Regions from separate parts of the Homo sapiens genome. Here region 1 is linked to region 2. The links come from fine-mapping of genetic effects on gene expression. Tissue or cell type: nasal epithelium. Region 2 holds a variant in brackets; the other region holds the start of a gene. All regions are shown on one strand. Distances are from middle to middle.

What was found. PIP is the estimated chance that this variant, and not a neighbour inherited with it, causes the effect.
Region 1: CMIP starts here. The variant in region 2 is fine-mapped to the expression of CMIP in nasal epithelium (TOPMed, PIP above 0.99).

The regions. Positions count from the first base shown.
Region 1 is chr16:81,439,749-81,447,836 of GRCh38, forward strand. CMIP (c-Maf inducing protein) reads left to right here and starts at 5,060. Exons shown (of 21, transcript NM_198390.3): 1 at 5,060-5,793. The coding sequence starts at 5,494. RefSeq lists enhancers at 3,901-4,433, 6,598-7,363, 7,364-8,088 and silencers at 4,643-4,742, 4,853-5,202, 5,273-5,322, 5,753-6,052.
Region 2 is chr16:81,685,749-81,693,852 of GRCh38, forward strand. CMIP (c-Maf inducing protein) reads left to right here. Exons shown (of 21, transcript NM_198390.3): 11 at 6,027-6,092; 12 at 7,410-7,436; 13 at 7,691-7,739. Among named protein-coding and RNA genes, the nearest start is that of MIR6504, 78 kb to the left of the region's middle. RefSeq lists enhancers at 1-735, 736-1,473, 5,352-5,991. The variant C/T (reference allele first, on the strand shown) is at 3,060.

The DNA.
Region 1 (8,088 bases), 250 kb before region 2:
ACAGCTGATTGTTAATTTTTCAGAAATTTTGCAAGCTGGTTGTCAAACAGCCAGTAAAAAAAATTAAGTTATGTAAAGTTACAAGTAAATAATATTTTTAAAAGGTAATACAACTCATCACTTCCTAATTATTTTACTACATTTTGCCGGTATCTCTCTTCTTGAAGTTATTTATGTCGATTGTAGCGGTCGCCAAACTTTTTCTGTAAAGGGGCCAGAGAGTGAATATTTTAGGCTTTGCAGTCCATGGCTGAATCTGGCCCCTTGCTGGTGTATTGTATCTGTGTGGTGGAAACTCTGCCGTGGGGTGCATGTCTTCCTAACTCCATGTCCAAGGACACATGTTGGTAGCTTGTATAATAATTGGCCATGGTGGTTGTATTTGCACCAGGGAAATTGTCAAACTTTATAGATCAGGCTTTCCTTTTTTCAGCAGGCTGACTATTGAACACGACCCTGGATACAGTGGTGAGCAAAACCAGAATGAACCCTGCCCGCTTGGAGGGTACAGTGCAGTGCATTGGGGTTTGTGCACCATTTCATGGTGGGGTGGGGCAAGGAGAGAGAGCTGTGCAGAGGCTGGAGTGGATCTCCACTGGAGACTGCTGGTTGTTAAACAGCCAGTTAAAAAAAAGATTAAGTTATGTAAAGTTACAATTAAATGAATAATATTTTTTAAAAGGTAATACAACTCATCGTTTCCTAATTATTTTAGTACATTTTGCCGGTATCTCTCTTCTTGAAGTTATTTATGTCTATTGTAAGGGTTGCCAAACTTTTTCTGAAAAGGGGCCAGAGAGTGAATATTTTAGGCTTTGGAGTCCATGGGCTGAATCTGGCCCCTTGACTATAGTTGCTGACCCCCCATGACAATAGTTGCTGAGCTCCCATGAGGGCAGCATTTTGTGTGCTATGGATCTGTAGTACCCAACACCGTCCCCGGCCCTCAAATAGGTGCTAATAAACAGATGTTTAATGGAATCAAATAAAAGAAAATGAATGAAGCAGTGTCACGTAGCTCAGGGGTGAGGACATTGACATCGCAGCGAGATCCAGCCATTCAACCGAAAATCACTATGCATTTACTTTGCCCGCTTCATTCATTCTTTCTTTTATTTAATTCCGTTAAACACCTGTTTATTAGCACCTATTTGAGGGCTGGGGACGGTGCTGGGTGCTACAGATCCATAGCACATAAAATGCTGCCCTCATGGGAGCAGGGGGAACATCCACTTACAGGTGTGGCTGCTGGAAGGCGCCTCAGCTCAACCTCTCCTAGGCTGCCCCTCAGCTCCACTGCTCTCCTCCCCAACAGGTACTTTGCCACCTCATCAAATTCCTTAATGGCAGCCTGGGTAGCGGGTGTGTCTTTCCCTTCTGAGTTAGCTACAGGGGACACCTCAGAGAACTCGAGTTGAGACTGTGCCCATGAAGGCACTTTACTGTTCAGTTTGGCATCCCAGCTCCTAGCATTGAGTTGATCGAGTGGGTCCTCCACCAGTGTGGCCCGGGGTGACCCCACAGTGGGCTGTTGAACGAAAGCGGTAGTTCAGGTGAGGGCACACGTCATCCTTTGGAACCTGGCTCAAACAAGGAGACACCGCCAGCAAAGAATGCAGAAAATGACAGGTTTGTCTGGTGAACTGGCCTCTGGTTAGTGAACGAGCCTGCGAGAGCCCAAGGGGAGTGAAGGGTGCGTGAACCGCCGTGCCCTTCCTGCTACTCCGTAAGCTTCTCAAGTTCAGTGTTGGAAGGGGAGGCTCTTAGGGGCTCGGACCATTCTTTGGAGGGTCTGGAGTTCCAGGGCATTGAGCACAACTCGGGGACATGGTCCATCCACGGGAGCTCGACGGGCTCATGTTTCCTATAATTTGGGGAGCTCCAGGGATGGGGCTCTGATGGAATCTGATGGCTGGATTCAGATTCCTTTCTAGGTTGGGAGCCTGGGATAGTGGAAGGTGGAGGGGCTCTGCAATGAGTTAGCCAAATCCCAGTCTAGGAGGCTGTGGACTCAACTGTCACACTGTCACAGACTGAGTACTAACGCCATCCCAGCTCATCCCCCGCAACTTACTGACCCAGTCCTGTGGCTGGACCTTTGCTAAGCACCAAGGAGTATGTTTTTGACAATCAATCCCTGTGTATTTGCTGCACCCCAGCTTTGTCCAGGCACTGAGCTAGTGCTGTTGCCAGACAGGCGCTTCTGGCTTCTGCCCTCAGGAACTTTCTTTGCCGTGTCTTGGGGGCTCCATTTCACTGATTTGAAACTATATTCAAGAAATACTGCTATTTAAAGAGGACACTGATTGAATTCAATACTTTCTTCCTGAATGCCTGCTCAGGACAACATTACAAAGACAGACATTTGTAATGTCCTCCTAAATTCCCAGAGGAGTGGGAAGCACATGGAATTTGAGGTCGAACAGAATCTGAGGTTCAAACCTCGGCTGGATCCTGATAGTTGTCTGACCCTGTCTGAGCCTCAACTTCCTCACTTAAGATGGGGATGGTAATAGTTCCTACCTCCTAGGCTGGTGGGGAGGAATAAACGAGAACAAATACATAAGGCCTCCAGCATGGTATCTGGTGCTTGGGTACCGGTCATTATTATCACGGTATGTCCTACTTAATGTTTACAAATCAACCACTGTACTGGGCTGCATGGAGGATGTCTGGAATGGTCCTGGAATATATCAGGGATTTGCATCCTGCTAAATCTCCTCCTTCTACTGGAGTTTTGTGCCCTGTATGGGTAGGGGCGTGTCCACAGATGTCCCCGAAGTGGACAGCAGCTGCTTTGCTTGCCACTGGGCCACTCCACCCAGTGACTTTGTGCTAGCCCTTGTTGCTTCCTTCTGTGGGGGGTAGGTGAGCATGAAAGTCTCCTCACTGGCCTCCTTGCCTCTAGGTTTCTCCTCTGCAATGCTCATCTGTGCCACACTGCAGCCTTTTGAAGAAGCCATGTACAAGTCACTCCTTTGCATGGCCCATGTGGTGTCTCCCCACTGCTCTAGTCCCTGGGTTTGCATTTCAGGGTGCTGCTTGCTCACCGCCTACATCTCTGCTCCACCTCCTCCAGGGACCTTGCACCCCATGGCAAGTGAGTTCAGTTTCCTGAACAAGCTGAGCATCCTCCCATCTCTTTGCCTTGGTAGGAGCCAGTTCGTCTTCTTGGAGCACCTATCCCCTTCTTTACTTGATTCCTAAAGAACTCTTAGAGTACCCTGGTCCCCCACACTGGGTTAGACATCCCCCTTTCTGTTCCTGGAGCACCAAGCACAATGTCTGTTACTGTTCTGGACTCTGACCTCCATGCTTTGTGGTTGAGGATGAGGACAGCACCTATGTCATAGGGTGTGAGAAGAGAATGATGTGTGCGTACAAAATTCTTAGCACATAGGAAGCCTCTGGCCACTGTGGTTATTATAGTCATTACCATTAATACCCTAGTGCCTGGCCTGTGACCAGCATACAGCAGGAGCTCAATGAAAATATTTGAACAAAGGATCTAATCCCACCCGCTTAATGGACTGGGGGGTTTCTTGGCCCCAACCACCCCCCAACACCCACATATCTAGGGCTTGCCCCTTCATGCTTGGTGGTTTTCTCAAGGCTGTTCAAGCTCAAAACTGGAAGGAAATGGCAGCAAATTGTGGGGAGCTAAGGAATTTCTAACTTTCTAATCTAATTGTGCCTCCCCAAGGAGGCATCTCCTGGGCAGGCTGGATGTGAGTCTTCTTTCCTTGGTGAGGGATGCAGCCTGGGACCTGCCTTTCATCCCCTGCCTGAAACCCTGGCCAGGCTCGGGGAGAGGGTCCTCTGGGGAGCACCTTCATGCTGCCTGTTCTTGGGAGAGGGGGGGTGAATAATTTCCACCAACGGCACAGATGCTGTGGATATTCCGCAGTGTTCACGACGCAGTTCAACACACGCTGCACACATTCATGTGTTCACTACAGAGGCGCCTTCACTTAAAAAGGCAAAAATCTAGGGTTTTAACGTTATTAGCTGCAGGAGCACGTGGAGATAAGAAAACCTGGCTGAGGAGCTGAGCATTTGCTAGGTGGCCTTAGGTGCCGGCTGCTTGTGATGGCAGAAAGGGAGCTTTTTGCATCCAGGCTGCAGTTCCTGATACCCTGGGTCACAAGAGAATCGAATATGGTTCTCTCGTGGGCTGGTGCTGGGCCTGTGAACTCAGATAAAATGACCAGGTGGGGTCCCAGGGAAGGTGAAGTAGGGGGAGCTGCTGGGGTGCGCACAAGAGGGGTGGCTGTGTAGGTTGGGGGGTGCTTTAAGTGGGTTCCTAGAAGAGGCTCTGTCTCCCTGGGCAGAAGAAAGAAGGGGGATGGGCGGACCGTCCCCTCTCTCCAGAAGGTTTGAGGACCCCCAAGGCCAAAGCCAGCAGACGTCAAAGGCCAGGAGTTCGAGGCCGGCTGGGTCCCGCAGTGGGAGACAGGGCAGGGTGGGCTCATCCTCCGGATCACCGCGGGGACACTTTCAGTCGGGAAGGCGTCCCCGTCCCACGGCCCCATCTGGCCAGCCCGCTGGACAGCCTGGACAGCGGAGGGGGCGTCAGGGGTCGAGGGTTCCAGTCCCCGTCCTTCCACCCAGCCCCCGGCCCTCGGGTATCCTTCTTTACCCGTCCGAGTCCGGCCCGGGGGCGGCGGGGGTGGGTGAGGCGCGGGCCCCCAGGCTCCGGCAGCCTGGCTGGGCTCCCGCCCGGGCACCCGCGGGGGCGCGGCTGGCGTGACGTCACGCGCCCCGCCCCCGCGCCCCGCCCCCTCCCCACATTCCAGGCGGGGCGGGCCGGGACCCCGCGGGGCTCGCCCGCCCCAGCCCCCTCCCCAGGGGCTGCCCCTCCCGTCGGGCCGCGCCTCCCCGTCGTGGGCCGCGACCCCGCCCGGACCGCGGACTCCGCCCGCGAGAGGCCGAAGCCGCCGCGGCCGCCGCCGTTGCCGCCATTGACGTCAGAGGGGCGGGCACATGACCCTGCGGGGACCAATCGCGCGGGCGCCCCGGGCTCCGGGAGCCCGGCGCGCGGCCCGCCCCGCCCGCGGCCACTCTCGCCCGGACGGCCGCGCGGACACACGCTCTGTACACACGCGCGCGGCGGCGCGGGGCCCCGAGACACGCCCGCCCCCACCCCGCCGCCCCCACCCCGGCGCCCGCCCTCCGCGCCTGGCCCCGGCCCGCCCTCGGCCTCCCCCGCCCCTCCCCGTCGCCCGCCGAGCCCGGTCAGCCGCCGCGAGCATGCACCCGACGAGCTAGGAGGAAGCCCGGAGCCCCGCAGGAAGCGCCGAGGCCGGCCCAGCCCGCCGCACGCGCCGCCCCCCGCGGGCAGCGCCCCCTCCCCTGCGGGCGCCCCCAGCCCCACACCCCCCCACCTTCCCGGGGGGTGGGGGGGTGCGGGCCGCCGGATCCGGGGGCCCCGCCGCCCCAGCAGCCCAGGACAGCCCCCTCTCCCCGCCCCCAGCCCCCTCCCCCGGCGCGGCCATGGATGTGACCAGCAGCTCGGGCGGCGGCGGCGACCCCCGGCAGATCGAGGAGACCAAGCCGCTGCTGGGGGGCGACGTGTCGGCCCCCGAAGGCACGAAGATGGGCGCCGTGCCCTGCCGCCGGGCTCTTCTGCTTTGCAACGGGATGAGGTACAAACTGCTGCAGGAGGGCGACATTCAGGTCTGTGTCATCCGGCACCCGCGGACCTTTCTCAGCAAGATCCTCACCTCGAAATTCCTGAGGCGCTGGGAGCCGCACCACCTAACGCTGGCCGACAACAGCCTGGCGTCCGCCACGGTGAGTGGCTCTGCGCGGCTGCACCCCCGCCTCTCCTCGGGGCCCGAGATGCGCCCTCCCTGGCTGCCCCCTGGCGCTGCACCTGGAGCCCAGGGCCTGGGGGGCGGTGGGGGGTGCCGGGGGAACGGGGAGAACCAGGGCGCCTCGCTCCTGGCCTGCTCGCGGGGCTCGATTTTGGAGTCTGAAGCCCAAACCAGCCGACCGGGCTCAGGAGAGACCCTTAAAATGCTGGAGACTCGGCCCACCGCCAGGCTGGGTGCCTGGGGACCTTCTGCCCCCAGCTCTTGTGTTTCTGGTGGCTGGGACTCGAGGATGGACCCGACGCTGGGCCCTGATGGTGGTGGGGGTTCTCTCTGGAAGCCCCTGGCCCATCTGGATCTGAGGGGTGGGGGAGGGGAAAACAAAATACCACCCCTCAGATTTAAAAAAAAAAACAAACAACACAACAAAACCTCCAAACCCCCAAACCCAAAGAATTTCCAGAAGCCAGTTTCTCTGTTTGGTTTACCCGTCCTTTATTCTCTTTCCTGCCAGGGCTGGCAGGCAGAACGGGGTGCTTCCCTTTCTGAAAATCTCATTCGCACATTGAGAGGTTGGAAGTGGAGGGGGAGGGGGCAGTGGTCCTGGAATATCTCAGGACCCAGCGGTGGTCGAGTTCTAGCCTAGAAGCTGCTTGGTGGAGCCCTGGTCCGGCATTGTCTGTAGAGTGTGTGTATACGTGTGTGTTTTGTTGCTGGAGGTTTAATTTTGTTATTGTTTTTAAATACATGGGTAGGACTGGGTCAGCTGGATGAGTCGGAGAGGAAAAACCATTGATCTGTTTCTGAAATCAGATCTGCAAATGGTGGCCTTCTTCGTACGTGGAGAAAGACAGCTGTGGTGGGGTCGAGGGGAGAGTGGGGGTGGCGGGTAGGAGCCTGAACAGGATGCTTTGTGTTTTGAAACAAGGACAGTTTCAAATACCGGCTGTGGCTTGGGCCTGAGGCTTGCCGTGGGGGTCCCATCCTCATTGGGGGTGTAGCTTGTCTTCCCCAGAATGCACACTCCTCCCTGGGGCCACCGTGATCCTGTTTACTAAGCGCAGTGGGAGGGGGCCGAATCCACTGCCTGCCCACACCTGTGCCAAGAAAACCCAGCCAGGAAATAGGGTGTCGCTTACATGGCATGTCACAAACGTGTAGCGTGTGTAGACATTTCCCTGGCATCCATGTTCCCTTGGCGGTGTGTCACAGGCCATGACACATGCCCCAAGGAATGGGGAGGGGGGAAAAGTTAGCTGAAGAATCCTACTCTTTGAACCAGTCCCCCACCCCCCACCCCAGAGCGTTGCAGCCCTCGAGGACTTTTATTCTTAATTTGGGGTCCGACATGCTTAGAGCACCTATTTTCTCTTTCCTGTGGGCACGTTGGTGCAATATCTGCAAAGACTCCTTTTTCAGGGAGGATTGCTGGTCGCGGGGAGGCGGCCCAGTCCCCGGTCAGGCTGGTGCATGTTCTCAAGCCCGTCCCGCGCCACAGGCCGCAGCATTTGGCTTTCCAATGGATGGAGGCGGGAGAGAGCCTCCGAAAATTTGCCAGTACGGAGTGTTTCTGATGTGGGGAGGAACTGGTGACCGCGGTGCCCCCTGCCTGGATTCTGGAGACCCCAGATCTGGCTTCAGAATTTTCACCTGGCTCAGGGGGACTTTATTGGGCTTTTTTTTTTTTTTTCCTCTTACACTCCACAAAATGAAGGGTTGTTGGTGGTGGGGTAGGAAAATGGTTAGAAGGAACAGTGACCTGCCATGGGAAGGCCAGGAGGAGCCCCTTCTCCCTCTGGGAGAAGCCAGGAGTGAGTGTCCCGCTGCTACCGTCCTGTTTCCGGAAAGCCAGCTCTCGAGGCTAATGCCTCCCCACTTACCTCCGATTGCTCAGGAGGTATATCTGAGAGAAAGAGGGAAGGAAGAAAGACCTGAATAGCCAGAGGCCCCTCGCTCACCTTGGCCAGCCCAGGTAGGTGGCACCATCGGTAGTGTGGGCCTTTCCGGAAAGCACCTGTCTAGTACTGGGGACTGAGGCTTATCCATGGAGCAAGATTCTCTTGGCAGAGCCATGCTCTGGTGTTAGGAAATGTGGCAAGAGGAACTATAAGGAAGTGTTTGATGGACTGGCATAATCCCCTTTCCGCTGCCTTTCGTCACCAAGCACTACAGGCAGGGGGTGTCCTTAAGTCTTACCCTTGCCCTCTGGTGGGCTCCAGGGGGCCTTGCCTCAGGGCCTGTGAGCCTGGAGGTGGGGCTGTGAGGGCTGGCCTGG
Region 2 (8,104 bases):
AGATGGGATCTCTTTATGTTGCCCAAGCCAGTCTCGAACTCCTGGCCTCAAGCAATCCTCCCGCCTCAGCCTCCCAAAGTGCTGGGATTACAGGCGTGAGCCACCATGTGCCCACCAGTGTCCTTGTGATATAGGGAGATCGTCTTCCTTCTCAGGTGTGAGCCGGGCCACCCTCCTTGTGAGACATGGTTATTGAGAGGGTGGAGCACAGACACTGGGGCCAGGCTCACAGGTTCAGATCCCAGCTCTCACCAGCTGTGTGGCCTGGGGCCAGGGCAGCCCATCACTGTGTCTCCATTTTCCTGCCTATAAAATGGGGGTGCCAAGAGCACCCGCCCAGCCAAGTTGCTGGGAGAGTTGCATGGGCTGACGCATGGGAGCCCTTGGAGAGCACCTGGCACGCAGCAGGCGCTGCAGACGAGGTTTGCTGTCAACTGCATTTCCATTTTCTGGAAACCATGAGTCAGGGACAGGTGGGAGGAAAGGAGGAAGGTGATTCTTCTGGAGGGAAGACAAGCTAGCTGCAAAAACAGATGACCCCTCAGAAGGGAGCATGTGAATACGGGGGCATAAAGGGGTCTCCATGTCCTGACATGCACACGACAGGCCTCAGGCTCCTGCAGCTCTGAGAACCCCAGGCTGCACCTGGGCCTTCCGCACTCAAGCACTGCAGTCCAGAGGACCTGCTGTCAGTCCTCATCTGCCTCCCAGGCGTGGAGTTCAGCTTCCTCACCGGCACCCTCTGCCCTCACATACCGCTCTGGAGATTAAGTGAGCAAGTCGGGTAGGCAGTGAGTAAGCGGTCGCTGGCATCACTGTCAGGACTTATCTCAGGCAACAGGCTTTCCTGGTCATTCTTTTCTCCGCGTCTGGCATCGGAGCCTTTCCTCAGAAGCTTCCAGGGTATGATTGGGGTTCTGAAGGCTGCCACTCTATCGTGGGCTTATTTGGAGGAAGGTGGGGCAGGAAAAGCCCTCACTCAGGGGTTATCTAAACCGCCTGTTGTCGATGGGAGTGAACATTTGTACTTGGTGAAAAAAACATCTCCTCCCGTTTCTATGTAAGGCACAGTTAGACACACAGCACGCAAACCGATACACAGTGTATCTGTGGTGAGTCGTATGTGGGTAGGGGTCCCGGGACCACCCCTCTGCCCAGCCCGGGTCTGAGCACCCCCTGGCCTCTCCCGTGGGTGGTGCCCAGGTGTCAGCGGGGCATCTCTCTGCAGCGCCTCCCCAACACAGACCACTGGACAAGGGTTCAGATCCCACCTCCTGCCCCAGTGCAAGCCAGGATCGAAGTCAGCATCCCACTCGATCTTGGCACCTGGTGGCACTTGCTAGTCCCCCAGATGGAGACTCAACATCCCTTCTGCTCTGAAGCCGGTCACAGGCCCCAGGCTCTGTCATTGGCCCGGTCCCAGTGTGCACTGGGCCTTGTGTTCAGCAGTCCCCTCCCAAGCACCAGCCATCCACCCAGCCCGGGGCCCAGCATGGGGGATGCAGAGATGAGACCTGGGCCCCTCCTGGGGTGGTCCGAGGCAAGATGGTCAGAAGCTGGGGAACACCAGGGACAGCTCTGTGATTCGGATGGGGACTGCTCCAGTGGCCACCCCTCACTTTATGTGTCACGGTTTTAAGCTCTGGGCCCTCAGAGGTGCCCAGGCCTGGCTTAGGCGAGAACTGACTACCTCTGGGTTTGTTTTTCCGCGGAGTCCCTATAGCCAGAGAGATCCGGAACCCAGGTGGGGGAACTGGTTATAAACACAGTGCAGGTGCTGGGGCCGAGAGGACGGGTCATGGTCTTTGAAGCACCTGAGGTCAGATCTCAGCCACTTGCTGGTGACTTGTGGGAAATCACAAACAGCTCTGAGCCTCATTTTCCTCGTCTGTAAAATGGGGGTTGTCATGACTGCAGTCTCTGGGGGCCGTGTGTGAGTGCTCTGCTGTGTGATACAAGCCCATCTGTACTCAGACTGAGACGCCGGCGAGTTCTCTGGACGCTCCCAGCTTTTGGGGGCAAGAGTTGGCCAAAAAACTCCCTCTTTATGAAGCTGTGCTGGTAGGTGGTCGGGAAGCAGCCTGTTGGGCCTCAGGAAACTCCCGAAGCTATTGCTTCCCTGCTGTGGCCTGGCTGTATCACAGCCCTGTGGTCACGGTCAGTGAATTGCCATACTGCTCCTTGTCCGTAATTTGGACTCAGCACACAGGGTCCTCTGGGTAGATCCCATGAGCGAACACAAGCAGTGCCCTTACTTCAAGCCCCGGTGCGCAGGCAGCGCAGAGCGAATTGCATCTGCGTTATCAGCAGTGCTAATACTGTTCGGTTGTGGGACAGTGGTCTTCCCAGGGTCGGATGGGGGTGACACCCTGGTGCCTGGCTTCACCACACACCATGGTGTGATAGAGCCTGAAATACCTGGTTCTGAGTCCAGCTTTACCCCTTCCTAGGCTGTGTAGATGACTCGGAGTGGGTAACTGACCTCTCCCGCTGTCTCTGCACACAGGAAGGAGGCTCTTTCATGAAAGGGTTAAGTGAAGTCAGGTGAACAGCACGGTGCTTCCCGCAGCTGCTCTCACTGAGGTTTAGCCCTCCTTCCTTACCCAGGCAGGCGTTGGCTTTTGCTAAGATCACAGCCGTGGCCTTTCAGGGCTGGTGAGAGCCAAGGCTCTGCTGTCACAGAAGCCTGGATTTGACTCCTCATATGCCACAGCTGTGTGACCTTAAACCTCTGAGCCTCCAGTTCGTCATCTGTTAAGTGGGGTTAGTCACACTGACTTTATTGTGCTCTTGTAAAGAGTAAATGAACTAAGGTATAGCCCTTAGCATCCTGCAGTGTGTGTGGAAAGTCTCCGTGACATCGGAGCTGCTGTTGTTATTGTCATTGTTATTACCGTCATTAGCATCAACTCTGTTTTTTTTTAATATACTTTAAGTTCTAGGGTACATGTGCACAATGTGCAGGTTTGTTACATATGTATACATGTACCATGTTGATGTGCTGCACCCATTAACTCATCATTTACATTAGATATATCTCCTAATGCTATCCCTCCCTC[C/T]TCCCCCAACCCCACAACAGGCCCCGGTGTGTGATGTTCCCCACCCCGTGGCCAAGTGTTCTCATTTTTCAGTTCCCACCTATGAGTGAGAACATGCGGTGTTCGTTTTCTGTCCTTGCGATAGTTTGCTCAGAATGATGGTTTCCAGCTTCATCCATGTCCCTACAGAGGACATGAACTCATCCTTTTTTATGGCTGCATAGTATTCCATGGTGTATATGTGCCACATCTTCTTAATCCAGTCTGTCATTGATGGACATTTTGGTTGGTTCCAAGTCTTTGCTATTGTGAATAGTGCTGCAATCAATATACATGTGCATGTGTCTTTATAGCAGCGTGATTTATAATCCTTTGGGTATATACCCAGTAATGGGATGGCTGGGTCAAATGGTATTTCTAGTTCTAGATCCTCAAGGCATCTCCACACTGTCTTCCACAATGGTTGAACTAGTTTACAGTCCCACCAACAGTGTAAAAGTGTTCCTATTTCTCCACATCCTCTCCAGCACCTGTTGTTTCCTGACTTTTTAATGATCGCCATTCTAACTGGTGTGAGATGGTATCTCATTGTGGTTTTCATTTGCATTTCTCTGATGGCCAGTGATGATGAGCATTTTTTCATGTGTCTGTTGGCTGCATAAATGTCTTCTTTTGAGAAGTGTCTGTTCATATCCTTCGCCCACTTTTTGATGGGGTTGATTTTTTCTTGTAAATTTGTTTAAGTTCTTTGTAGATTCTGGATATTAGCCCTTTGTCAGATGGGTAGATTGTAAAAATTTTCTCCCATTCTGTAGGTTTCCTTTTCACTCTGATGGTGGTTTCTTTTGCTGTGCAGAAGCTCTTTAGTTTAATTAGATCCCATTTGTCAATTTTGGCTTTTGTTGCCATTGCTTTTGGTATTTTAGTCATGAAGTCCTTGCCCATGTTTATGTCCTGAAAGGTATTGCCTAGGTTTTCTTCTAGGGCTATTATGGTTTTAGGTCTAACATTTAAGTCTTTAATCCATCTTGAATTAATTTTTGCATAAGGTGTAAGGAAGGGATCCAGTTTCAGCTTTCTACATATGGCTAGCCAGTTTTCCCAGCACCATTTATCAAATAGGGAATCCTTTCCCCATTTCTTGTTTTTATCAGGTTTGTCAAAGATCAGGTGGTTGTAGATGTGTGGTATTATTTCTGAGGGCCCTGTTCTGTTCCATTGGTCTGTATCTCTGTTTTGGTACCAGTACCATGCTGTTTTGGTTACTGTAGCCTTGTAGTAGAGTTTGAAGTCAGGTAGCGTGATGCCTCTAGCTTTGTTCTTTTGGCTTAGGATTGTCTTGGCAATGTGGGCTCTTTTTTGGTTCCATATGAACTTTAAAGTAGTTTTTTCCAATTCTGTGAAGAAAGTCATTGGTAGGTTGATGGGGATGGCATTGAATCTATAAATTACCTTGGGCAGTATGGCCATTTTCACGATATTGATTCTTCCTATCCATGAGCATGGAATGTTCTTCCATTTCTTTGTGTCCTCTTTTATTTCATTGAGCAGTGGTTTGTAGTTCTCCTTGAAGAGGTCCTTCACTTCCCTTGTAAGTTGGATTCCTGGGTATTTAGCATCAACTCTTAGAAAAGAAGAAAAGCTGTTGTCTGAAAGCAAAAATAGAAGTATCCACCAAGGCCAGGCATGGTGCCTCACACCTGTAATCCTAGCACTTTGAGTTATTTATTTTTTTGAGTCTGAGTCTCGCTCTGTTGTCCAGGCTAGAGTGCAGTGGGGTGATCTCAGCTCACTGCGGCCTCCGCCTCCCAGGTTCTAGCAATTATCCTGCCTCAGCCTCCTGAGCAGCTGGGATTACAGGCGTGAGCCACCACACCTGGCCTATCCCAGCACTTTGGGAGGCTGAGGCAGGCAGATCACCTGAGGCCAGGAGTTCAAGACCAGCATGGCCAACATGGCAAAACCCCATCCCTACTAGAAATACAAAAAATTAGCTGGGCATAGTGGCGCACGCCTATAATCCCAGCTGCTCGGAAGGCTGAGGCACGAGAATCACTTGAACCCAGGAGGTGGAGGTTGCAGTGAGCTGAGATCGTGCCATTGCACTCCAGCCTGGGCAACAGAGTAGGACTGTGTCTCAAATAATAATAATAAATTTTAGAAAAAGAAAAAAAAGGGATCCAACAAATCAGGAGGTTTGACCCAAACTACAAACAAACAGCTTAGAATGTTTGTTGTTTATGATTCTGTCTATAGAATTTTCCCTCAGTTCTGATCACAGAAAGGTGAGAATGGCCCCAGGGTCCCAGCCTAAGCCCCCTACATTAGTTTGCTAGGACTGCTATAAAGTACCATCAACCTCATAGCTTACTCAACAAACATGTATTTCTCTCAGTTCGGGAAGGCACAACCCTGAAATCAAGGTGTGGGCAGGGCTGGTTTCTCTGGAGGCCTCTCTCCTGGCTTGCAGATGGCTGCCTTCTCGCTGAGTCCTGGCTGGTCTTTGCTCTGCGTGTCCGTGTTTCCTCTTCTTCTAAGGACATCCGTCTACAGCCTCATTGTAACCTAATCACCTCTTTAAAGGTTGTGTCTCCCAGTACAGTCACATTCTGAAGTACTGGGGTGCAGAGCTTCAGTATATGAATGGGGGGCAAAGTTCAGCCTAAAACACCCCCTAATGGTCCCAAAGAGGGCATGAACAATGATCACGTAGCCTTGGTTCAAAGGGCATTGTGAAGTCTGGGGAATAGACAGCTCACCCCCTCGGGTGCCATGAGGAAGTCTCTGCACAGGCCCAGTTGTGAGTCCTTGAGGCCACGCTGAGAACATTGACTTGCTCATCCTGGAGGTGGAAGTGGGTGGAGAAGTCAGTGCCACTGACTACCTGCCAGGCTCTCACCCCATCTTTTGGCCCATCTGGGACCAAAAACAGTGCCATAAACCTTCCTTGTCCCAACCAAAGCTGACTGTCACCCTCTCTCATTCTAGGTCAGACTATGATGACTGGAGACCGTCTCTGGCCAGTTTGCTTCAACCCATTCCATTCCCCAAAGAGTAAGTCCCGTGTGCATCCCCGGAGCCCTCCCACCTGTGAGACAAACCTCAGTTGTCCACCAAGGCCTTAGTGGGGGGCCAGTCATGTTATGGGGAAGCGAAGTCACAGCGGGAAGACCCTGGAGACGTCGGTACCAGCTCAGCCACGTCCTCAGCTGTGGGACCCCTGGGGAGGCACATCTTCCCTCAGAAAAATGGGGAACTCAGGAGAACAGGGACATTGTAGGAGCTGCTTGACTGCATTGTCACAAGGATTCATGAGCTAAGAATGCAAACAGAGCCCTCCCCATGGCTCCTGGCAGGCCGTGCAGTTATCGTCTTTTATTATGCACCAGATGGGAACCGTAATACCTGCCGCTCCTCTTCCGAGGGCGATAGTAAGAATCAAAAGATAATGCGCGTAGCATTGCTCGCTGTGCCGTACTGAGATGCTGGAAGCGCTCTAATTACGCCCGGTACAACGCTCAGCTCAGGCTCTGCAGCAAACCTGGCCAGAAACAGACCCTCTGCCTCTCTCTTGCCGGCCCCTAGCACCATATTGAATTGATCACTGGAAACTAGAGAGAACGCTGTCTGGTGGATAATGGCCTGAAGAGAAGGCTTTGTCAAAATAACCAGGCCCTGAAATGCCTCCAGGTCTCTTTCAAGAGGTTGGAAGGAGCAAGCCTCGGGAGGCAGCTGGGGCTCTCGAAGGAGCCGATTACCAAGCGTGTTTAGGAAATGCTGCCTCTGTAAGGGCACATTACACGCAGTAATTGCCCCATGTGCTGGCCTGGCCAGTCCCCGAGGGTCCCCAGTACTTGAGGCCGGAGAAATCCACCTCCTAAGAGGCGCTCAGTCTCAGCAGAGTCGTGACGTCATTGGCCTCAGTCCCCGTCCCCATAGGCCTGGGCGCTCTTGGCTGTGGCAACTGTCTTAGAAGAATGGTCCCCCATGGCCGCTGATGTGTGCAGTAATGAGTGCCGCCCGCCTTAATCGTGGAACAATTAATGAACACACCTGGGTCTCCGGAGCCCACATGCACCCACACATGCTCAGGCAGCAGCTTAGCCCCTCTTATTCACAGGTGTGGGCACAGGGAACTTTCGGGAATGGGGGGCCCAGTGTGTTCATGTTGCTCTGATCTGCCGCCTCCTCAAAGAAGGCCTTTGTTTTGGAGCTTTGAGTGGGGACAAAATGTTGGCATTTCACTCACATTCCTCTTCATTCTTTGAATCAGACATAAAGTCTAGACGTCCCCAGAGGTTAATCTTGGGAACATTGTGCTGTTTCCGACGCTTCTGTTAACCGCCGTGTTTTCCCCTGTTTTTGTTGCAGAGCTCTCGCACATGAGAAGTTCACCAAGTGAGTGTCTGGGCACCGCCCTCATTCCATTCTGGCACGCACGGCCTCTGTCCTGAGGTCTTCCCTCCGTGGCCCATGCATTCTGGGAGGCAGTGGTGGCTCCTCTTGGCAGTTCTCTTGAGACACGTGTCCCTGATCCACCGCCTTGCCCAGCTCCCTGGCCCGTTCTTCCTTGACACCATCCCCTCCCCTTCCCACACCTCCCACTCAGTTCCAGACCCCGGCAGTAACTCCGGCCGCCTCGTCTCTTCCAGGGAACTGAAGTACGTGATTCAGAGGTTCGCCGAAGACCCCAGGCAAGAGGTGAGGCCTTTGTTTCTGCATCTCAGGCCGGCTGTCTGGGGATGGCAGGATGCACGAGGGCCCCTTAGAGGCCTTCTGAAGCTTGTCACCAACAGGCATTCAGAACAGCTTTCAGAGACCCATTGCCTGTGTATAAACACATCCCCGCCTGGTGCAGAGCCCAGCCTGTGATGTCAGTGTTTTACTGTAAACGCCGGCTCACCGGGGGTGGTTTTCCACTGGCTGGTGGTTTCTGCCCGCAGCCGAGGCCTTGATTTCGGGCTGGGCTGGCATGGCAGCTCTCAACCAGCTCTGAGGCAGCATTTTGATCCTGTCTGGTTCTGCTATTATGTGAATCACTGGGCAGAGCAAGGAATCTGAGCTGG